Homo sapiens: one gene and its partners. The protein of the gene in region 3 interacts with the protein of the main gene of each other region in a pairwise test. Each region holds a gene or a part of one and is shown on either strand. Other genes may lie near its edges.

Region 1 (8,229 bases), on a different chromosome or scaffold from region 3:
TTCTCTGGTGGTTGGACTGGGGTTGGAGAATCCTGGCCATCTTCCTTCTCCAGGCCATTGTGACTGGGTAATGATGAACTGTCACCTGGAGGTGTTGACTGTCGTTCCGCTGAGAGCTGTTCAGAGTGATTAGCCTCCATCTTGGGAGTAGTATCTAGTGGTAAGCACAGTTAGGCTTTATGTAGCTAACCTACTTGCTACATATCAATGCTACATTTCAATGGTAAGGATATCCCCCAAGTGAATACCAACTAATTATAGTCTCTAACGTAGAGAAAGGCAATGTCCTTTCACAAACCATTGATGTTACTAAGGGAGGAGACCACCCCTCATATCGTCTTATGCCCAATTTCTGCCTCCAAAGAAGAAGTAAAAACTAAAACGCAGACATGAAATCCACAGGCAGACAGCCTGGTGCCGCGCCCTGAGCCTGGTAGTTAAAAATTGACCCCTGACCTAATAGGTTATGTTATCTATAGATTACAGACATTGTATAGAAAAGCACTGTGAAAATCCCTATCCTGTTTTGTTTCGATCTAATTACCGGTGCATGCAGCCCCCAGTCACGTACCCCCTGCTTGCTCAATCAATCACAACCCTCTCACGTGCACGCACTTAGAGTTGTGAGCCCTTAAAAGGGACAAGAAATGCTCACTCAGGGAGCTCGGCTCTTGAGACAGGAGTCTTGCTGACGCTCCCGGCCGATTAAACTGCTTCCTTCTTTAACTGGGTGTCTGAAGGGTTTTGTCTGCGGCTTGTCCTGCTGCATTACAATTATTAAAGTAGGGACAGTGGAAAGTTGTTTTTCCAAATCAAGTCACACTGCTGGCATATTTTTGGTTTTGATCTTCAGTTTTCAGTAGCATTCCTTATTATTCACATTAAGAAAGTAATTCATGCTATTTTTCTTTGTGGCCATATTTGTCATTTTGCTTACACTAGTCAGTTTGTGTTACCATTTTCCTGTATAATTCTATGTAGATTAACAATCACTGGGGGTACATGACTGTATATATTTAAAATGTTTAAATATAAAGTGGTATTAGTTTTCTTTCAAAGTTAAAATATTTAATAGAAGAGCCATTGAATTTATTTAAATAACTCATAAGAATAACATCTCTAAGCTCTATTTGATCCATAAATCAATATTTTGCTTAGTGTGAATATTTTGATGTAAATGCATTATTACACTGGATAGAGGAGACATTTCTCACTTTTCTGGCATTTTCTTTTTCAGATAAGCAACACGAATGCTTTTTTTGAGGCTTAAACTGGCATCATTTTTAGATTAAGACAGGGAATGAGGGAAGGTATAAATAAATAGACAAAGTAGTATGGAAACACGGGCCAGGTGCTGTGGCTCATGTCTGTAATCCCAGCACTTTAGGAAGCCGAGGCGGGTGGATCCTTGAGGCCAGGAGACCAGCCTGGCCAACATGGTGAAACCCTGTCTCTACTAAAAATACAAAAATTAGCCAGGTGTGGTGGCGGGCACCGGTAGTCCCAGCTACTTGGGAGGCTGAGGTATGAGAATTGCTTGAACTTGGGAGGCGGAGGCTGTAGTGAGCCAAGATCGTGCCACTGCACTCCAGCCTGGGTGACAGAGCAAGACTTCGTCTCAAAAACTAAACAAAACAAAAGCATGATGATACTTATAACAACAATTCCTTAAATTTCTATAATACTCTTTTATTCCAATATATAAACCAATTTTTTAAAAGAGAAAAACAGATTACAACTTTCTCTTCTAAGTCAGGAAGCTCTAGAAAAACTTAATGATTTTTAAGAAGTAGCAATGTTTCATAAACAAGGAGGAGACCAACTCGAGAAATAATTCAGCAATAATAAGGGCCCTTAGGAAAGGGTGAGAGATGGTACTGAGTCAGAGATTCCAGGGTTTCTGACTATTACCACTTCTAGAGTTGCAATAGATTTGGTTTAGGCCTTTAAGTTATGGTGCATTTTATTTGTAAATAATATTTAACAGTGATGCTGCTAAATAGCAGCATAAAAATGTGGCAAGATCCTCATAATTCACAGGTTTTGCTGTTGTGGTAACATGAAAGTGAAAACAAAAGCATACTGTTCTACAACTGCACAGCTTCCTTTTCCTGTTCTCAGGGCAGTAGATGTCAATTGAATGCTCAGACACCAACAAGAACAGAAAATTCAACACACAGATGTTGCCACTGACTTGTGATGCTCACCAAACACTCATAACTTAGAGGAAGTACTTTTTTTCTTTCACTGGTTTGAATTCACCAACTTGATTATCAAATAATGCAGCAGTTTCATTATTTTCATCACTGGGATTTCTTTTCCTGACCTCACTTGTTGATTGCACTCATCTATATATAACTTAGGCCTCCCCTGAACACGGAGAAAGACACACGGCACCTGCTGTCCAGCCAGAAGTTATTTTAAGCTATTCTAAAATGAGTCATGCCGTTTAGCACTTCATCCTTGAAAATCAAGAGAATCGTTTTTCAGTCAAATTGAAAACAGTAAACATTTAGTGGCTTAAATCCATACATGGGTTTTAAAGTCGGGGAGACTATCTTAGGATGAAATAAAATCTCAAGTAAAATGAACTTCAAAATAATTAATTTAAGATAAGCTGTCCATAGGAGTTTTACTTCGGTTAGTCTAAATGCAAGTGGCTGTTTGTATTTGATTTATTCTTCATGAGATGCCACAATCATTGATTTTTTAAATTCTTAATTCCATGGCTATTCTTTAAACTCCTGTTCCACATTTACTTTAAAACAGAACAGTCATTATAAAGCCCAGGACAATTCAATTCCCAAAAGTAGCCTCAAGACAAGTTAACAAGAGGGAAAAAAACAAAGTCAGAGAACTTTGTTACTTTTCAATCATCCATTTTATATTATGTGGCAAAGAAATTATTTCTAACTTTTATCTTATATAAACTTTATTGCCTTATTTTCCCCTCCCCAGGGAGAGAACTTTTCACTTGTGTTGGCTATTCCAGATGACTATCACAGACACATCCCTCCCTAAGCAACACATTTTATTTATAAATACAACAATGAAAAGTTCTCCAACAGTTCACTGGCAATCTCAAAGTTGCAAGTTTCGAACACCACAAACCGCACCCTATACCTTCTCACAGGGCTTGGGGGAGTGTTTGTCATACTTACCAGAAGGCAAGAAGCTAAGCAAGAAGAGAGAGGAGAGGAAGGAGGCAGGAAAAAGCAAGTCAGAGCTGCAGCAACAGCAGGAGAGGGCGGGCTGGCTGTGTTCTTACAAGGGAGAGAGAAACCCAATACACACACACACACATACACACGTGCACGCACGCGCGCGCACACACACACACACACACACACGCCACAGGCACTGATGGAGGCAGCAGTCTGGAGGAGGTGGGGGTAGGGAAAGGAACATCATATGACACAGCAAGGGGAAAATACACCCAAGCTTCCCTAGCTGTTGCCAGGGGAAATACCTTAGCAGAGAGAAGCAGCTGGAAGATCTCATTAGACTCTCCATGTTTTGTTTGTCCTTTCGGAAATTTAAACTCTGAGTATATTACCCCCGTTGCAAATGCAGTCTTTCACCATTGTTGTCCTTTTTGGGTAGAGATCAGTTTTTCTTACTTCTTGGGTTATCTCCAGTGTGGTGGAAGATTCATCTTCTTTTTCTTCTTCTTCTTGCACTAGCTTAATTAGTGTCAGGTTTCTTACAGGAATCATGGAAAAAGAAAAACAATGGCATAAGAACAGGGAGGTGGTGGAACCATTTTAATTCTGATGTCATTGTTTGGTTTGTTTGCAAAGTTTGAAATAAACATGTAGATGGTGATTTTGGAGCTGAACTGAGTATAATCTTCATGCACGTGGTAATTGGTGTGACCTTGGAGCACAGTCTTTCCCAGGTAACTCTTCCCATCTCAAACAAACCCTCAGGGAAGCAGTCTGCTTTTTCTTCCTTAGTTGGTGGCTTTCCCACATTTTGTAAATCCTCAACATGCTCCTTGATCCTCCTCAGAAAAAGAAATTCCTTCTGATTCACCATAAAATGCCTGTCTATTAATTTACATCCATTTGCCTTTTATTTTTCTTTCTGGAGCTTGTGTTCCCATACTTCCAAAGCAGATTCCTCCATCGGTTTCTGCTCTGGGGACAGGCTAGGCATAGTGGCATCCCTTGTGGGAGGCAGAATAATGCCACCCAAAAGATCTCCACGTCCTACTCCCTGGAACCTGTGAATATGTTTCTTTACATGACAAAAGAGACTTTGCAGATGTGAGGAAGGATCCTGAGGTAGGGAGGTTATCTTGAACTACTGGGTGGGTTCAATGTAATCATAAGGGTATTTATTTATTTATTTATTGAGACAGAGTCTCGCTCTGTCACTCAGGCTGGAGTGCAGTGGTGCAATCTCAGCTCACTGCAACCTCCCGGGTTCAAGCGATTCTCCTCCCTCAGCCTCCCAAGTAGCTGGGATTACAGGCGCCTGCCACCACATCCAGCTAATTTTTGTATTTTTAGTAGAGACGGGGTTTCGCTGTGTTGGCTAGGCTGGTCTCGAACTCCTGACCTCATGATCCGCCCACCTCGGCCTCCCAAAGTGCTGGGATTATAAGCGTGAGCCATTGCACTCAGCCTCATAAGGGTCTTTATAAATGAGGGAGGAAGGCAGTAGGATTGGAGGCAGAAAAGGAGATTTGATGACCTCAGCATAGGTCAGGAAGCTTCTAGAAGCTGGGAAAGGCAAGGAAACAGATTATACTCTAGAGCCTCCAGAGGGATGCAATCCTGCGACATTGATCTTAGATCAAAGAAATTCGTTTTGGATTTCCGACCTCCAGAAATATAAAATAGCAAACTTATGTTATTTTTAAGCTGCTAAATTTGTGATAAGATGTTATGGCAACAAAAGGAAATGAAAACATCCCACCCCCAGTTTTGTCCTACTTATTCTCTGAGTTTAGGGGAGGCATAAGTTATATATAGATGAGTGCACCCAACAAGCAGAAGTCAGGATAAAGAAATTCCAGTGTTGAAGACAATGAAGCTGTTCACTATATTATTTGATAATTAAGTTAGTGAATTAAAATTGATGAAAGAGAAAAGCACTTTCTTCTAAATTAATGAATACTTGGTGAGTGCCACAAATTGGGTGGCATTCCATCCTGGATTGTAGCAAACTGACCCGATCACATCTCTTAGTAAATATAAACAAGTCAGTGCTTTTCAAATTTAAATAATGTATAGACTCACTTAACAGAATAATTTAAATAATGTGGAAATTATTTGAAGGATTATATTATTATTTGAACCTACATGTACTAAAATGAAAATAGGATAAATTCCTTATGCTTACAGTAGTTACATAAATTTTAAAATGTATACATTTTAAAGCCTACAAAATCAATAAATGCGACTCAAATTAATAACACTACTTTTATGTGACAGATATTGTTTTGCTGAACTTAAATTGCTGCTTGCAACATGAATACTCTATTGACTGCTGGGTTTTTTGAGTTTCTGGTACTCTTCTACAATGTGGTTTGGGAATTTCCTCAACACTTGATTCATTCAAATTATTACATAGTTTTTATTCATATGGCCTGCTATGATTTCATGGGGCTCTCATTTGATACGGCTGCATCATTTACTGCTTGCTATGGTCTGAATGTTTGTGTCCCCCCAAAATTCATGTGTTGAAATCATAAACCCCCAGGTGATGGTATGAGGAGGTGGGGCCTTTGGGAAGTGATTAGATTATGAGGGTAGAGCTTTTATGAATGGGATTAGTGTTCTCATAAAAAAGGTCTGAAAGAAACCCCTTACCCCTCTGCCATGTGAGGGTGCAGTGAGAAGAAGGCTTTGTACGAGGAAGTCACCAGACACAGAATTTGCCTGCACCTTGATCTTAGACTTTCCAGCCTACAGAACTATGAGAAATAAATTTCCATTGTTGGCCCGGCACGCTGGCTCACGGCTGTAATACCAGCACGTTGGGAGGCCAAGGCAGGTGGATCACTTGAGGTCAGGAGTTCAAGATCAGCCTGGCCATCATGGTGAAACTCCATCTCTACTAAAATACAGAAATTAGCTGGATGTGGTGGCGCATGCTTGTAATCCCAGCTACTGGGGAGGCTGGGGCAGGAGAATCATTTGAACCCAGGAGACAGAGGTTGCAGTGAGCCGAGATTGTGCCACTGCACTCCAGCCTGGGCGACAGAGCAAGACTCTGTCTCAAAAAAAAAAAAATTCCATTGTTTATTAGTCACTCAGTTTATGTTATTTTGTTATAGCAGCCTGAATAGATGAAAGCCCTATTCTTTCTCATTGTCCTGCAATTATTAAAGTAGTGCTAATTGGCCCTAACTTGAATAGATACACACATGATAGTGGAGGTATCAAAATGACACTTACACAGTGGCTACCCAGATCCAAAACAGGCATATGCATTTTCAAGTATAATTGAAAATAATACAAACATGCAAAACTGTGACTCCCAAGAATTTATCTGTGGCCTGATAGGGGCCCAAAAAACTGGGATAAGTTAATAAAGACAGCAAATTAATAGAGCTCAGTGTTTTATTGTCAAATCAACGTTAAAAGAACACAAATTACACGTCTAAGGCTTTGAACTTTTGTAAAGAATACACTTATTTTTTGAAAATACATCTAACTGTTTACGCAAATATCACAGGAAAATAATTTGAAAATTCAAATGATGCTAAAAAGCTTAACCCAAGAAACAATAACTCCTTGTTCTTCCACCTTCCTCCAACCTTGTGATGCTTTCTAGAGGTAATAACATAAAACTGTTGTAGATATTTTTTGGGGGGGGGATTTACTTTATCATTTTTAAATAAAATGCCTTGATTTTATTTACAACTCACCAATTTTTGACATTATTTATTGTCTTCTCATAATGATAGATGAAGATTTTCATTGTTTACACTCCCCTTTTTCTCCTCTCTTCATTTTCCCCACAAAATTATATCTCAATGTTTAATTCATATCCTATATTGTCTTTATTGAAATAATGTTTACTGTTAAACCAGGTAGAGCATTGTGATTATAGTTCTATTCATATGCAACTTTCTGTTTTTCCTGGAGTTGATAATTTCTTTTTCTTTTCATTTGCCTAGTATTGAGAATACTCTGTCTTCCCAAACAGCGTAAGAGGCCTATAAATCTTTCTATACAATATTCCCAAAGGTCAAATAATTTATGTATTCTAGTACTTTTTTGGAGATATGATCCCCACATACAAACACTCTTAGAACCTTGACCCCCCCCTCCTCCAGCCTGGGCTGGTGGCTTCTAGGCCTGCTACACAGCTGTGGTCCTGGCACTTCCCCTGCTGTCGTTCTGGGAATTCCCTTTACCTCTCTCCTGTTGCCTGGCTCCTATTCTTCCTCTTTCTTGGTTTAATTCCTCATTTAGAAAAACATATCCTCTAGTGGCTTCCTGAGAAAGCATTTATGGGAGACTGTGTGTGTGCCTGAAATATCTTTTTGATACCCTTATACTTACTTGATTGATAGTTTGGCTAGATGTAACCTTTTAGGTTGAAAATAATTTTTATTAAAAATCTTAAGACATATTATTTTCCCCTGTCTTTTAGTTTTTAATGTTTCTTAAAAATGCAAGGTCATTCTTATTCCTAATCCTTTGGATATGATCCATTTTTTTTCCTCTCTAGAACCATTTGGCATCTTTATCATGATGTTCTGAAGTTTCACAATGATTAAATTTGATGTAGATCTTTTTTTCATTTATTATTTTGGATGCTTACTTGGTTTTAATGTCTGTAGACTCAAATGTTTAACCTCTTCTCTTTTTCGTCATTGTTGCTCACCCTTGTCCTCCTCTGAGCCTCATATCGCTCAGTTCAGAGCCTTTCTGGTTAAGCTTCTTCAGAGAACAATCCTCAGGTATCCTGAAAGGGGCTTGATTTTGAAGGGTGGCATTTAGGACCCTTTGTTCTAACTGTTCCTTCTCCTAACTGGAAACAAACAAGCCAGGTGTGATGGTGCGCACCTGGTAGTCGCAGCTACTTGGAAGACAGGGGCGGGCGAGAGGATCATTTGAATGCAGGAATTCAAATCCAGCCTGAGCAACATAGTGAGACCCCATCTCTGAAAGCAAACAAACAAACAAACAAACAAAGCCAACAGCCAACAAACCATCCTACTATTTGTAGTCTCCTGCTTTACTGCCAATTTCAATAGTATCTCCACTT
Region 2 (8,360 bases), on a different chromosome or scaffold from region 3:
GAAGTGATTCTCCTGCCTCAGCCTCCTGAGTAGCTGGGATTACAGACACTTGCCACAATGCCCGGCTAAATTTTGTATTTTTAGTAGAGAGAGCGTTTCACCACGTTGGCCAGGCTGGTCTGTCTCCTGACCTCAGGTGATCCACCCACTTCAGCCTCCCAAAGTGCTGGGATTACAGGCATGAGCCACTGCGCCCAGCCAAGTACAGGTAACTTCTTTGAGAAGTTTTCCTATGAAGAGTGCAGAGAAATGCAACAGAAGCTGGAGAGGGATGTGGGATCAAATGACTTTTTTTTTTTTTTTTGAGATGTAGTCTCGTTCTATCGCCCAGGCTGGAGAGCAGTGTCGTAATCTCAGCTCACCGCAACTTCTGCCTCCTGGGTTCAAGCGATTCTCCCGCTTCAGCCTCCCAAGTAGCTGGGATTACAGGTGTGCACCACTGCGCCCAGCTACTTTTTGTATTTTTAGTAGAGACGGACTTTCACCATGTTGGCCAGGCTGGTCTTGAACTCCTGACCTCAAGTGATCTGCCTACCTCGGCCTCCCGAAGTGTTGGGATTACAGGTGTAAGCCACAGTGCCCAGCCCAAATGAATTTTTTTTAAGACAGGGTCTGGCTCTTGTCACCCAGGCTGCAGTATAGTGTCATGATCATAGCTCACTGCAGCCCCAAACTCCTAGACTGAAACAACCCTCCCTGCTTCAGCCTCTCGAGTAGCTAGGACTACAGTGGTGCACAACCACCCGGGCTAATTTTTTACTTTCTATTTTTGTAGAAACGGTGTTTCACTATGTTGCCCAGGCTGGTCTCAAACTCCTGGCCTCAAGCGATCTTCCCATCTCGGCCTCCCAAAGTGCTGGGGTTACATGAATGAGCCACCGAGCCTCCCAACACCACTACCCCCGACCACCCACCTTTTAAAAAGATGGGTGATATTAACAGCACGTTTGTGCTGGTGTAAATGATCCAGCAGAAGGAAAATCTGATGATGTAGGAAAGAAAGGAGGAGGCTGGAAGGAAGTCAGTGAATACAGGGAAAAGAATGCAATCTAGTGGTGGACTGGAGGGACTCTTAAATAGGAGCATGGACAGTTCATCTTTTTTTTTTTTTTTTTTTGAGACGGAGTCTCGCTCTGTCGCCCAGGCTGGAGTGCAGTGGCACAATCTCCGGCTCACTACAACCTCCGCCTCCCGGGTTCACGCCATTCTCCTGCCTCAGCCTCCTGAGTAGCTGGGACTACAGGCGCCCGCCACCGCACCCGTCTAATTTTTTGTATTTTTAGTAGAGACGGGGTTTCACTGCGGTCTCAGTCTCCTGACCTCGTGATCCGCCCGCCTCGGCCTCCCAAAGTGCTGGGATTACAGGCTTGAGCCACCGCGCCCGGCATCAGTTCATCATTTTAACAGTGAAGCCAGAGTGTATGGGCAACTAACTGTGGGGTTGTGGGGCTGAAAGAAATGTTAAGGGGGACAGGTGATGTTCTCCTCTGACTGCTTCTCCTTTTTTTTTGAGACTGAGTGTCGCTCGGTCGCCCAGGCCGGAGTGCAGTGGCACAATCTCGGGCTCACTGCAAGCTCCGCCTCTCGGGTTGAAGGTATTCTCCTGCCTCAACCTCTGGAGTAGCTGGGACTATAGGCGCCCGCCACCACTACCGGGTAATTTTTTTGTATTTTTAGTAGAGACGGGGTTTCACCGTGTTAGCCAGGATGGTCTCGATCTGCTGACCTCGTGATCCGCCCGCCTCGGCCTCCCAAAGTGCTGGGATTACAGGACTGAGCGACCGCGCCCGGCCGACTGCTTCTCCTTTCTTAATGAGATATATATTAAAATACAAGTTCATCAGCTTAAAGTAAGAAGCGGGTAGGACAGACTGCAGGTGTAGGAGATGAGAAGAATAGTGTAAAAGAGTGTTGCCTGGGTGCGGCGGCTCACGTCTGTAATAGCAACACTTTGGGAGGTGGAGGTAGGAAGACTGCCTGAGGCCAGGAATTCGAGACCAGCCCAGGCAACATAGCAAGACCTCATCTCCACTAAAAATAAAAAATTAGCCGGGTGTGGTGGCGTGTGCCTGTACTTCTAGCTGCTCAAGAGGCTGGGGTGGGAAGATCCCTTGAGCCCAGGAAATCGAGGTTGCAGCAATACTTCACTGCGCCGCTGCACTCCAGCCTGGGCAACACAGGGAGATCCTGTATCGGAAAAAAAAAAGTGTATTTAGGAAAACACAGATTGGCAGTTTGGGAGATGAAAATTGAATGTAGGAGAATGAACGTCCAGGAAAACACGGTAGACATGACCAAAACACCTTCTTTAGATTAGTGGACTTGTATTAAAAGTGAGATAACTCGGCGGGGCGCGGTGACTCACGTCTGTAATTCCAGCACTTTGGGAGGCCGAGGTGGGCGAATCACAAGGTCAGGAGTTTGAGACCAGCCTGGCCAATATGGCGAAACCCCGTCTCTACTAGAAATACAAAAATTAACCGGCCGTGGTTGCGCGCGCTTATAGTTCCAGCTACTCCAGAGGCTGAGGCAGAAGAACCGCTTGAACCCGGGAGGCAGAGGTTGCAGTGAGCGGAGATGCTGCCACTGCACTCCAGCCAGCCTGGGCGACAGAGCAAGAGACTCCGTCTCAAAAAAAAAAGTGAGACAACTCACCAAGGTTCTGTTTTTCTCCAGCCACTTTCAACAGCCCTTAGTGCGGGTGTGGAATAGGAAAGGTAGATTTAACGAGGTTAGTTAATAAGCAATGTGAAGGAGAAAAATAAAAGGAAAAATGGATTATGAAATATAAAATGGATTACGAGGGAAGCAAAAAGCGTGACAGTAAAAAGGCAGGAGGACAATTATAGGTCCTGGTGGGGTTCAGGCGTTGTTGGAGCCGGGGTTCCAAGTTATTCTTCACAAGTTTAGATTAAGACCATGGAAGTCAGTGACTAAAGCTAAGTTTTTCGTTCCTCTAGATTCTGCCCCAGGAAAGTTTGGGTCAAACCTATCGGGATCCTTAAACCACATTCCACTCCGCCTCCTTTGTCGGGAGGTTTCACAGAAGCGGAAAAGGCGGCTCCCCCTTGCTCCTCCTCCCCACCTCCCCCCTACCTCTAGGAGTTTAGGGCCGGGCCATCCCAACGGGCTGCCCCTCCCAAAACTCACTGTTTGGACAGGTGTTGGGCGTCGCTAGGCGCCGACGAAGAACTTCTTTCCAGTCCATGGCCGACTTCCGCGCAGCAGCTTCTGCATTTGCTGTTTCCTACCTGCTCCACCCCTACCAGCTCAGGCGTCAGCACCGCCAGGCCCCGTAAAGGTTAGGAAGGCCGTCCAACCACCATCTTGATCGAGGGCGGAAGTCTTGGCTAAAGAGGCAAAAACAATTACTGTCACTGCCGCGGAGAATACCGCTACCACGCTGACTGGGGGAAAAAACTATGAAAGAGATGGAAAATGGTTCTCCTTCAGAGGCGACCCAAGCTCACCAAGCCGGATTTTAAAGGCCACGATAAGCCCGCGTTTTCCTTTATCGTGTGCCTTTGGCGCGTGCGCACCACGTGACCCAGGAGTTCATTAGTTCCGGCTTGAGGGAAGCGCCTTCTTTCACAATTTCTTTTCATTGTTCATTGCGGATATCTGGAAGCCTTCCAGGTCCCCTGAATGTAGTAGACACTTCAGCAGCCGTCTCCTACCCCTTTTGCCACTAAATGCTTCAAAACTGCCTTTTTTCCTCGCCGCCGGGCCAGGCGGAACGCCTAAGTCCGGGTCAGTCTCGTCCGTCGGTCGGGGCTGGCGCGGTGCATCGTGGGCACTGTAGTTTCCGCCGCGTTTATGGCCGCGTTAAGTCTGAGTGCCGCTTTGAGTTGTTGAATGAAGTGAACTTCATTTGTCAGCGTTCGGTACGCAGTCTAGGCAGCGCCCTTCCTGTACCTCTCTTCCTTTCCTGAGTCGTTGGCGCAGCTGACTCGCCACCTCCTCCCTCCTCGTCCCCCCACCGGAGGAGTTTTGCGGTCTGTAGAGAGCTATGCAGGGTGAGGGCCCCTAGACTTCGGCTTTCGCCGCTGTTGGTGGTAGGCTGGAGTTGGGGGTCCCTGGATACGGTTTTGGCTTTACACCCCCTTTCCAGCAAGCTTCCCGTGGGAATCTGTTCCTTTTCAGGACAGCTGTGATCCACGTGAGTAAAACTGGGCGTTCCGTCTTGTGCTTTTTCCTCAGGTTCATGAACTGGAATGTAAGAGGCACCAGAGGATTCCTGCTCTGTCCCCTGGTTTGCGGCTTGCGACGTTGGACATCCCCGGATTGTTGTTTAATAGAGAAAACTCACCTGCCTTCTTGCTTTTAAGTAGCCCCAAAAGCAGAACCTTGATTTGTCTGTAAGGAAGAAACACAAACCTTTTAAAAAGTTCCACTTCGACTCTGCACCGCCGACCCCCAATCTCTTTAATTTTGCCATAGAAGAGGGGTTTTTTCAACATCTCTCTCACTATCTGGTGCTGATCTCACTGCATAATGACTTTCTATTTGTTTGGTATTCGAAGCTTTCCGAAGCTTTGGAAGAGCCCATACCTTGGGCTAGGCCCAGGGCACTCTTATGTCTCGCTGTTTCTGGCAGACCGCTGTGGCATCAGGAACCAGCAGAGGTTGTTTTCTCTTAAAACAATGTCTCCACAGAATACCAAAGCAACGAATCTGATTGCCAAGGCCAGATATCTCAGGAAAGATGAGGGCAGTAATAAGCAAGTTTATTCTGTTCCTCATTTTTTTTTAGCTGGAGCAGCTAAGGAGAGATCACAGATGAATTCTCAAACTGAAGATCATGCCTTGGCACCTGTGAGGAACACTATTCAACTCCCAACACAACCTTTGAATTCAGAGGAGTGGGATAAACTTAAGGAAGATTTAAAAGAAAACACCGGAAAGACCAGTTTCGAAAGTTGGATCATTTCACAGATGGCTGGCTGTCATAGCTCTATAGATGTGGCTAAATCTCTGCTGGCATGGGTAGCAGCCAAAAATAATGGTATTGTAAGTTACGATTTACTGGTCAAGTATTTGTATCTCTGTGTCTTTCATATGCAGACATCTGAAGTTATTGATGTCTTTGAAATTATGAAAGCCAGATATAAGACTTTAGAACCTAGAGGTTACAGTCTTCTCATCCGGGGATTGATCCATTCAGACAGATGGAGAGAAGCATTGTTGCTGTTAGAGGACATCAAAAAAGTTATAACTCCTTCAAAAAAGAACTATAATGACTGTATCCAGGGAGCTCTCCTTCATCAAGATGTAAACACAGCTTGGAATTTATATCAGGAATTGCTAGGTCATGATATTGTTCCTATGTTGGAAACTTTAAAAGCTTTCTTTGATTTTGGAAAAGACATAAAGGATGATAACTATTCAAATAAACTACTAGATATTCTTTCATATCTAAGAAATAATCAGCTGTATCCAGGGGAGTCATTTGCACACAGTATAAAAACATGGTTTGAGAGGTAATTTTGGTTTTTTTATATGTATGTTTTTATTCTTTAATTTTTTTTTTTTTTGAGACAGGGTCTTGCTCTGTTGCCCAGACTGGAGTGCAGTGGTGTGTTCATAGCTCACTGTAACCTCAAACTCCTGGCCTCAAGTGATCCTCTCGCTTCAGTCTCCTCAGTAGCTAAAACCACAGGCATGTGCCACCATACCTGGCTAATTATTTTTAATTTAATAACTTTAAACCTCAAAGTAGCCATTCTTTTTTGTTGTTAGTTGCTGAGAATCACTCTTCTGATTATACTTTTTTCCATCTCTTAGTAAGATTTATTTTCTCTTTACGACAAAATTTTCTCTCTTTAAAAAAAGTAACAACATACATAATTTGTGCTAATCTTTACCCATCACATAAAACTGAAATTATATAGCAGTTTTAATTTTTACATTTTTTTCCTTTTGGAAGGATCATTAATTTTGTTTTCTTAGGCATCTAGTATGATGTGAGTACTTAATACTACTTATGGCCACTGTTCATAGCAAGAAAAGAATATAGCATTTGACTAGAACTGTCTCTGGCCATATTAGTATTTTCAGAAGTTCCTCTGAAATCTAGCGACTGAGATAATATGCTTATATTTATTCTGTCTACTCTCTCCCTTTTTTTTTTTTTTGAGACGGAGTTTTGCTCTTGTTGCCAGGCTAGAGTGCAATGGCATGATCTCGGCTCATTGTAACCTTTGCCTCCCGGGTTTTCTCCTGCCTCACACTCCCGAGTAGCTGGGATTACAGGCATGCGCCACCATGCCCTGCTAATTTTCTATTTTCTTTTTAGTAGAGACGGGGTTTCTCTATGTTGGTCAGGCTGCTCTCGAACTACCTCAGGTGATCCGCCTGCCTCGGCCTCCCAAAGTGCTGGGATTACAGGCGTGAACCACCGCGTCCGGCCTATTCTGTCTACTATCTATAGTTCATCAACTTGGATGATTAGAGTGGACAGGGGGATATTGATCAAGCCTTATACGTAAGCATTACAATGGAAAATCTTAACCCTTCCAGTTTGTTTTGGACCTTTCTATCATTTGGCTGCTGTCTCTCTAAAGCTCTCTCCTTTGGTTTGCTTTTGCTTTATTCATGTTACTGGGTACATACCTGTTTATTGCTTTAGTCTTTTTTAAAATTTTTGAAAATTTTTACTTATTTTTTAAAATTAATATTCTTTTTTTAAGAGGTGGGGTCTTGCTGTGTTGACCAGGCTGGACTCAAACTCTTGGCCTCAAGCGATCAGGTGTGAGCCACCATGCTTAGTCATTATTTCTTCATTAATTTGCTTCCTAAAAATTTGTTCCTTCCCTCTGTTTTTCTCTTGCCTTTTTTTCCCCTATATCATGTTTACGGAGCTTTGAAGCAGTAATTATGCTTAATTATCTTAAACTTACTGAAGATCAAGGGAGGAGGAGCCCATTTGTGAAAATCTTTGAATACCAAGGAGTTTGGATTTTATTCTGTTATCAAGAATGCTGGATTTGGCTGGGTGCTGTGGCTCACGCCTGTAATCTGAGCACTTTTAGAGACTGAGGTGGGAGGATAGCTTGAGGCCAGGAGTTGGAGACCAGCCTGGGCATGGTGAAACCCTGTCTCTACAAATAATACAAAAATTAGCTTGGCATGGCGGTGTGTGCCGGTAGTCCTAGCTACTTGGGAGGCTGAAGCAAGAGGATCACTTGAATCTAGGGAGTCAATCAAGGCTGCAGGGAGCTGTGATGGCGCCATGCACTCCAACCTGGGCGACAGAGCAAGACCTTGTCTCAAAAGAAAAAAATAATGCTGGAATGGAGTTTTACAAAGGCAGTTGCCAAGTGAGAAGAGTAGATAGGAGAGGGATTAAGATTGAAAACAGGGAGATCTGCGTGAATACAATTTTAGGTTTAGGTGAGAGATGATGAGAATTAAGAACTGAGGAAGGAGAGAAGGCAGTAGAATCATAAGAACTGATGGTAATATGTGGAAGGGGAAGGAGGAAAGGATACATTGATTGAACAAATACATCAATACATAGTTTTTGAATGCTTCCAAATAGGCTAGGCATTGCGAGTGTTTTATAAAATCTATTATGACATTCTCAATTTAATTGGGAATACAGTACCACACAGTGAAATAACAGTGGTGTGTAAGAGGTAAATTACTCTCGGCAGGAGCAATTTCTGGCAGCTTTATGGAGAAGGTAAGAGTTGAGTTTGGTTTAGAGGTTATGCTACTAAGGTCAGCCGCTTTTGGTAGACTTGAAGATGAGAGTTATTTGTTGGGAGGAGAACCACAGGGAAGAAGGAGATCCAGAGCAGAGTACCAGCAGCTTCTTAACCCCATCCAGGATAGCAGCCACTTTTTAAATTAAACCATTCTACAGAAGTATCTTGAACTTTTCGGACTTCTTGCTTATAAGAGTTTCCAAATACCATGAATATCTTTCATTTCAGTAGGAATCTAACCTTCTCATGATTTGGTTTTGCAATCTTTTCATAGTGTTCCTGGAAAACAATGGAAAGGACAATTCACCACAGTCCGAAAAAGGTGAAGACCAATGTTTATTTTTAACTTGTTTGATTTTGGTTTAGTAGGTTTTGTTGCTATTAATTGAAAAATATTTAAGAACACCTTAAGGGTAGGATAATTACAAGTTTGTAATTAGAGTATCTGAGGAAAAAAACATACTTTGCATACAGAGACTTAGCAGTGCCCAAAATGTTTTTCCTGTGAGTACTGTGAACCTATATGAAGTCTTAGAGATGTTTTTTCCCTAGAGGTTCCAGACCCAGTTGTGTTTTAGGATTTATTTATTTATTTAATTCACCAATATGATATTCCAGAGGATAGGAATTACTTTAAAAATGTCATCTGAG
Region 3 (7,703 bases):
CTGGACCTCCTGGACCAGAGGGAAAGCCCACTTGTTGGGGGAGTGGCTCAGTAACATTTCATTATATGCATACACCACATTTTGTTTATCCATTCAACAGCTGAAGGACATGTGAAGTGTTTCCATCTTTTGGCTCCTATTAATGCTGCTTTGAACATTTGTGTTAACTACAACAAAGATCGAGGCTGGGCATGGTGGCTCATGCCAGTAATCCCAGCACTTTGAGAGGCTGAGGAGGGCGGATTGCTTGAGCCCGAGACCAGCCTGGGCAACATAAGTGAAAACATAAGTGAAACCCTACAAAATAATAATAATAATAATAAGCTGGGTGTAGTGGCCCGCGCCTACAGTCCCAGCTACTCTGGAGGCTGAGATGGGAGGATCTTTCAAGCCCGGGAGGCAGACGTTGCTGTGGGCTGAGATCATGCCACTGCATCCCAGCATGGGCGACAAAAAAAAAAAAAAAAAAAAAAAAAGAAAAAAGATTGAGACACAGAGGTCAAAGGAAATAGCATTTAATTTATTTGAGAAACAAAGAATTGCAATTCACGTACAGTGAATCAGAGCAGCCCTGAATAGTGTCTCATAAGGCAAGCACAGGAGAGGGTTTTTTAAATAGGGGATTCCCACAAGAAGTTTTCAGAGGCAGTTCATTGGCTGGGTAGAACTCTTAAATCTCAAACCCATTCTGATTGGTTGGTTAATTAGGGTACTCACGCTGAGAGATGATGAAGGCTGGCAGATACTTACTGACTTCAGTTGTTTCTACAGGTCTATTCGGTGGTTTGACTTTTTAGCAGGTGTGAATGCAATCCCCTAGCAATCTCCTGACTCCACTTTAGAAAGCCTTCACCTTAGTTACTTCATTTTCTTCCACACTGCACAAGTTTTTGTGTGAACATGTTTTCAATTATCTTTGGTATATACCTAGGAGTGAGTCATATAGTAATTGTATATTCAACTTTCAGAGGAGCCGTCACAATTATTTTTAGCGGGTTTATAGCTTTATTTGACATATATGACAATTGGCAGTTAGTTCTCATCCACACTGACTATCTAGATTTTTGAAAGTGGTAACAGGTATACAGGTAACCACAGTATTGAGCTTGTTTGGTGAATTTTCATCCTTGTTATGTTTTCTGAACAATCGCACATGTACATGGTGTGGGACATTCCTTATTCCTTTGGCCCTGATAGCCTTGTTAAGCCTGGTATCAATGCACACATCTGGAGTGCCCATCTTCATGGCAAATTTCTGAATCTCTTTGAATGCCCACAGAGCATGCTTCTTGAAGCCCACTCCATGGATGTGAGCTAGTGACCCAAGTGTGTTCTTGGGTCACTACCTTGTTGATGGCAGAACAGCTCATCTTCTTGCCACCCTTCTTTGCAGGAGCCATTCTGCCAGGCCCAAGATGGAAAGGAAGAACATGAGGGACGGTGGGAGAAAGAAGGCCTAAACTTTTAAAAAGTGGCTGCACCATTTTACATTTAAGACATTTTGACACATTGTATTTTTGTTGTTATTTGACTCTCTAGATAATTTCTGCCATGACTTTTTCTGTAATGCACAAATTGTTTTTTGAAGAGTTTTAAATTTCCCAACTAAAAAGGCTTTTCTAGTTATTTTTCTTTTATAATGTCTAACTTGGCTGGGCGTGGTGGCTCATATCTGTAATCCCAGTGCTTTGGGAGGCCAAAGCAGGCGGATCACCTGAGGTCAGGATTTTAAGACCAGCCTGGTCAACATGGTGAAACCCTGCCCTCTACTAAAAATACAACATTTGCTAGGCGTGTTGGCAGGCACCTGTAGTCCCAGCTATTCGGGAGGTTGAGGCAGGAGAATCGCTTGAACCTGGGAGGCGGAAGTTGCAGTGAGCCGAGATCACGTCACTGCACTCCAGCCTGGGTGACAAGGAGACTCCATCTTAAAAAAAAAAAAATTGTTTTGTTAATTACAATAAATTATGTCAAAAACAAAGATAATTTCTTAAAACTCTTCACTTTCTTTTATGTTCCTTGCATCTACTGTATCTGTATGGTGGAAATACTATATAATGGTGTGCTACTAGACATCTTTTCTCAAATTCTTATTAAGTGATGTCACATTGGTGGCTTGAAATTGGCTATGATGGGAATATTGACATCATGGAAATCAGCAAAAGCTAAACATTGGACATTTAAACTTAAGAAACGGATGTGGAAAATATTAATGCAGAGTAAACTTAAAAGTTTGTGTTATCTGTAGCCTTTACATTGTGACTTGCAGAAAAAATTAAGAAAAATTATTCCAGTGTTAGAAAATGATTATCTATTTCAGCAAAGAAGTTGCTCATAACATTGACAAGTGAAATTCTGACATAGATCTTGGATATGTCACTCTCATCTTAATCACAAATAAAAACAAAAATATTAACCAACATTCATGTTGGAACTAGGTTGTTAAACAATTGCAACCATAAGTTGGCCACAAATACAGGAGTACAGCATAAACCAACGAAAGCATTCTGAGAGAAGCAATTGTCTATGAGGAATTTACAGTAAAGAGAATAGGATATTTCATTATTTATAATTCATCTGCTATAATTCCTTATCAATACTTTTGTTGGTGGTGGTGGTGGTGAGACGGAGTCTTGCTTTATTGCCCAGGCTGGAGTGCAGTGGCGCCATCCCGGCTCACTGCAACCTCCGCCTCCCGGGAGTGCGCCTGTAATCCCAGCTACTCCGGAGGCTGAGGCAGTTTTGTAGCCACAAAACTGGCTGCCGTGTCTGACTGGAAATTGCTCCCCTGGAAACTTGGCCACACCTGGCGGTGCATATCTCATGGTTCTGGCTCTGGCTTCTGCTTAGAACCCAGTCAGCATCTGTTCCAGCATGGGAAGCAACTGTTCAGCTAAAACCAAGAGCAGCCTGAAGGAAGTGGGGACGTAGGAGACTTTGTAGGTGCTCACACCCAGACAGGAGAACAAAGGTTTGGTAAGGGCTCAGACCTTAGAGACGGGTTCTCGACGATGTGCAGCGCATAACGAGGAAAATACTGACCGGAGGGGGCCGGTCGTAGGGCTGGGGAGCAGGAGGAGGGCAAAGGATAGAGAGGGGGTAGATAGGGAGTAGATAGGGGGCGGCAGCCTCGGCCTCAGTAAGCAGGGGCTCAGGGAGCAGATGTCTGAGACTGCACCACGTCCGCTATTTTGAGGTTTGGCTTCTCTTACTGCCACGTGGTGCAGAGGGAAGGCGCCATTTGATGCGTCCAAATCCCGAGTGGGAAGAGAAGATACGGATGAGGGAGATGGATGTGTCTGTGGTGACTCTTGGGCACTTGTGCCGTTCAATCCTGTCACTCTCAAGCTGAAGAACCCAAAGCAAACGCCAGGTTTACAATACCTGCACTATCACTCATTAGTGGGAGGGTCAGGCGCCACCCAACTCTGGGCTTTTATTGGTCATGTCAAGAAAAAAGCGAGAGGGACAACTGGGAGCCTCCTTCTGATTGGTGGATTCCTGCTAGCCCTCAAGTCAATCAGAGTAGAATGTACCGCCCTCCTTCCCACTCTGGCCCCCGCGGGAGACATGTTAGGTAGCGGGACGCCAACCTTGTCACTCTTCTGAGACCGCCACCCAGTAACACGCCCTGCTTTCCTCCGCCGCCGCCGTCTCCTCCATCAACTGTCTCCTTCTAACATGTTATTGCAGTTAATAAAAAAGCGTTCTTTTCTTCACAAAAGCAGTTGTTTCATTGTATAATGTGAGAAGTCTGCGTTCAGGCGGTTAGACGCAAAGGAGTGGAATAAGTGCCCTGTTCAGCCTGCCAACCTTCGGAACCAGCCAACAGACTCGGTACTGACTGCCATGATCCAGTAAGCACCCGACTCGGGTCTCTGGCAGCCTGAGTGGATTTTGCGTGACTTTTGGTCCCTGGCGGCTCCTGTAGCGTCCCCAGTTACGGCGCCCATAGCAACCGGCTCCCTAGCTAGGCGCCCCCGGGTTGCCAGGGGCCGCACCAGCTTTCCCGTCCCGGGCCAGCGCAGGCGCTCAGGCCTCGGAGGCGGGGCGATGGCCACCTCCCACCGAGTGGCGAAGCTGGTGGCCTCCAGTCTCCAGACCCCGGTAAATCCCATCACTGGAGCGCGGGTCGCCCAGTACGAACGCGAAGACCCCTTAAAGGCCCTGGCGGCAGCGGAGGCGATCTTGGAGGACGAAGAGGAGGAGAAAGTGGCTCAGCCCGCTGGGGCATCGGTAATACTGGGGCGGGACTTGGGCTGGGACCTCGCATGGGCTGGGTGCAGGCTGAGGGCTGTCCGGTTCCCCGCCCAGCTGAGGGCAGGCTGGTAAACGCGGGTCCCTGTGCACATAGTCCCTACTTGGTGGTCCTGGCCCAGCCCCTTCTCTACGCTCACGAAAATTACTCTAAATCGAGGCGTTGAAAAGTGTTTTAATTTTCACCAGTCTGTTGTAAAAGCTTCCTAGACAACATTTATGTTACTCTGCTTCTGGCAAGTGCAAAGTATAGAATTTTACTCTCTACTCTCCAGCATCTCGGGAATGGATATATAGAGATATATCTGGCTATATATAGTAATTTGAGGAAAACTGTTCTGTCAGGTGTGTTTCGTTATTACCTTAAGATCTTGGTTATAAGCGGATCTCAACATAGTGCTCTAAAGATGTGTGTTTAAAACCATCACGTGTTCACTGGCTAAATCAGACACGGATACAGATAAGCAAATCACTGAGGTTTCAGTGTTTCCTAAACAGCTCTTTAGGGTACAGCGAGACGGCCTTTTCACTGATCAGTTTTCATTGTTAAATCTGTTGTGGACACCAGTCCAGCAGGTAGAGGGCAGGGTCTGCCATCTGCTCAATTCACTTAAAAGATGGGAATCTTGGCCGGGCGCGGTGGCTCGTGCCTATAATCCCAGCACTTTGGGAGGCCGAGGTGGGCGGGTTACGAGGTCAGGAGTTCGAGACCAGCCTGACCAACATGGTGAAACCCCGTCTGTACTAAAAATACAAAATTTAGCCGGGCGTGGTGGTGCGCCCCTGTAATCCTAGTTACTCGGAAGGCTGAGGCAGGAGAATCGCTTGAACTTGGGAGGTGAGGGTTGCAGTGAGCTGAGATCTCAGACCCAGTCTCAAAAAAAAAAAAAAAAAAAAAAGATGGGAATCTTGAATTTAAACTAGCAATCTGCAGATAGAAAAAATTTCCTAATACCATGTGTCCAAAGCTTCTCAGACACCAAACTTATGATTGAGGACTAACTGAAATCACTGGATATTTTGGAATTCTGATCTCTTTAATCTACAGTAAAATTGTTAATGAGAACATCTTTAGCAACACCTTTTGTGACCAATCTTTCACCAACAGACAAACAACTTGAAGTTATCCAGAGTAAGGCAGACTGAGACCCTGAACATGAACCAGGATCAGAGTGCTAGGACCGATTTTGTTCATGATGAAGCTACCCCTCAACACAATTTTCAGTAGGCAACAAGGCAACGTGATGGAGAAAAAGGATTGAAGAGTTCTGTATTAGGATCCATTCCCTGCCACTTCCTAGGTGGTGTTAGGACATAATTTCCTTAAACCTCAGTTTCCTTATCTGTAAAATAACTATAATAATTGTCTCTTTTTTCCCATCTCAGCTCTATGAGAACCAAATGAAAGAATGTGTGTCTCCTCTAAAGAGCAATCTATGTAAATGAGTTGCCAGTGGGAGTGTCATTTGTGTGCCTTCCCAAAGATTAAACTCAACTTTGGCTTGCTGTGGTAAAGGAGTCAGTCACTTCTAAGTTGCAGATATGCTTCCACAGTGCCCTGTTAAACTGCAAATTTGTGTTAGAAACTGTTATTACCTTAGGAGGGATCAGTTTATACAATAATCTAGTTTGGAAAGGACAGGATCCTACAAAAAAAAAAAGGAAGCCAAGTCTTAAGAGTTTGGTACTGTTCTGAGACCACCACACATGAGGGATCCAAAAGTAAAGCTGGGTAAGCTGCCACAGTGGGCCTGATAGCCAGGGGGCACAGGCTGGGGGAAGAGGCATTAAGAAGGCAGGAAGAGTGCAGGAAATAGGCTCTGCTTTCTTCACTGGTTGGCTTGGGTCTCCATCTTGATTTTTAAAGGTTAATTTGCCTTAACCTTATTATCTATAAAATGTAGTAAAGTCAAATATTATACCTAACCCACAAGATTGATTTGAGAACCACCCATCACAATAGGCCTCTTTCAGCTCTTTGGTTTTGCCAAAGCCAGACCACTCATCCCACCCCACACTGCCCCCCAACCCCCCAACCCCTGCACCATCCCTATACACCCTCCCAGCTCTGGCATACACACGCACCCCCCTTGCAGTGCCCATATTGGGCACTGATGCCTGTTCCTTGAATCTAGCCTTAGTCAGAGATGTTGGTCCACATATCCTGTTATATGACTGATGATGACACAGGTAACGCAGTATTCTGTAATTCGCAATTAAAATCTCACTCCTCCCAGCACTTTGGGAGGCTGAGGCAGGTAGATCACTTGAGGTCAGGAGTTTGAGGCCAGCCTGGCCAACATGGCAAAACCCGGTCTCTACTAAAAATACAAAAAGTAGCCGGACGTGGTGGCACGCGCCTGTAATCCCAGCTACTAGGGGGCGCTGAGGCAGAATTGCCTGAACCCGGGAGGCGGAGGTTGCAGTGAGCTGAGATGCAAAAACTGCACTCCAGCCTGGGCAACAGAGTGAGACTATGTCTCAAAAAAATAAATAAATAAAAAGAAAAAATAAAATCTCACTCCTAATGGGGCAACCTTATCTTTTCAACAAATATTGAACATTTATTAAGTGCTAGTCATTAACTATTCAGTGTATATATAGCTCACATCCTCACAGAATTTTCAGTCTGGTGAGGGAAATCAGACAATTAAAAATGAACAGGGCCGGGCGCGGTGGCTCACATCTGTAATCCCATCACTTTGGGAGGCTGAGGTGGGTGGATCACCTGAGGTTGGGAGTTCAAGACCAGCGTGACCAACATAGAGAAACCCCATCTCTACTAAAAATACAAAATTAGCCGGGCGTGGTGGCACATGCCTGTAATCTCAGCTACTCAGGAGGCTGAGGCAGGAGGATCGCTTGAACCCGAGAGGTGGAGGTTGCAGTGAGCCGAGATCACGCCATTGTATTCCAGCCTGGACAACAAGAGCGAAACTCCATCTCAAAAAACAAAAAATGAACAGACACATAACTATAAGATGGGAAATGTTGGGAAAGAAATGAACAGCCTATAATGATTAAAAATAAATAGGAGAGAACCTATTGTTTTTCTTCTGACTCCACTTTTTATTTATTATTTTTTGAGACAGAGTTTCACTCTCTTGTCCAGGCTGGAATGCACTGGTGCAGTCACAGGTCACTGCAGTCTCAACCTCCCAGGATCAATCAATCTCCTCACCTCAGCCTCCCAAGTAGCTGGAACTAAAGGTGCATGCCACCACGCCCAGCTAATTTTTATATTTTTTGTAGAGACAGAGTTTCACCATGTTCCCCAGGCTGGTCTCGAACTCCTGGGCTCAAGTGATCCACCTGCCTTGGCCTCCCAAAAGTGCTGGGATTATAGGCGTGAGCCACTGTGCCTGGCTCCACTGTCGATATACATACATACATACACATATACACACATACACACGAACGCACACACACATATATTTTTTTGAGAT

The links. The genes of interacting proteins can lie anywhere in the genome.
Region 1: the proteins of FAM161A (region 3) and TXLNB interact in binary tests that used the Homo sapiens proteins (3 or more experiments, as listed by UniProt).
Region 2: the proteins of FAM161A (region 3) and PPP2R3C interact in binary tests that used the Homo sapiens proteins (3 or more experiments, as listed by UniProt).

The regions. Positions count from the first base shown.
Region 1 is NC_000006.12:139,288,760-139,296,988, forward strand, and holds the start of TXLNB (beta-taxilin), read right to left. Parts: upstream 3,240-8,229; 5' UTR 3,162-3,239; intron 155-3,161; 5' UTR 141-154; coding exon 1-140. UniProt on the Homo sapiens protein: Promotes motor nerve regeneration. May be involved in intracellular vesicle traffic.
Region 2 is NC_000014.9:35,118,752-35,127,111, forward strand, and holds the start of PPP2R3C (serine/threonine-protein phosphatase 2A regulatory subunit B'' subunit gamma), read right to left. Parts: upstream 3,240-8,360; 5' UTR 3,209-3,239; coding exon 3,151-3,208; exon of another isoform or gene 3,088-3,150; intron 2,078-3,087; exon of another isoform or gene 2,076-2,077; intron 1-2,075. Other genes in the region: PRORP (mitochondrial ribonuclease P catalytic subunit isoform 1 precursor), read left to right, coding at 4,495-5,480, 7,984-8,031. UniProt on the Homo sapiens protein: May regulate MCM3AP phosphorylation through phosphatase recruitment. May act as a negative regulator of ABCB1 expression and function through the dephosphorylation of ABCB1 by TFPI2/PPP2R3C complex.
Region 3 is NC_000002.12:61,850,392-61,858,094, reverse strand, and holds the start of FAM161A (protein FAM161A), read left to right. Parts: upstream 1-4,034; 5' UTR 4,035-4,053; coding exon 4,054-4,236; intron 4,237-7,703. UniProt on the Homo sapiens protein: Involved in ciliogenesis.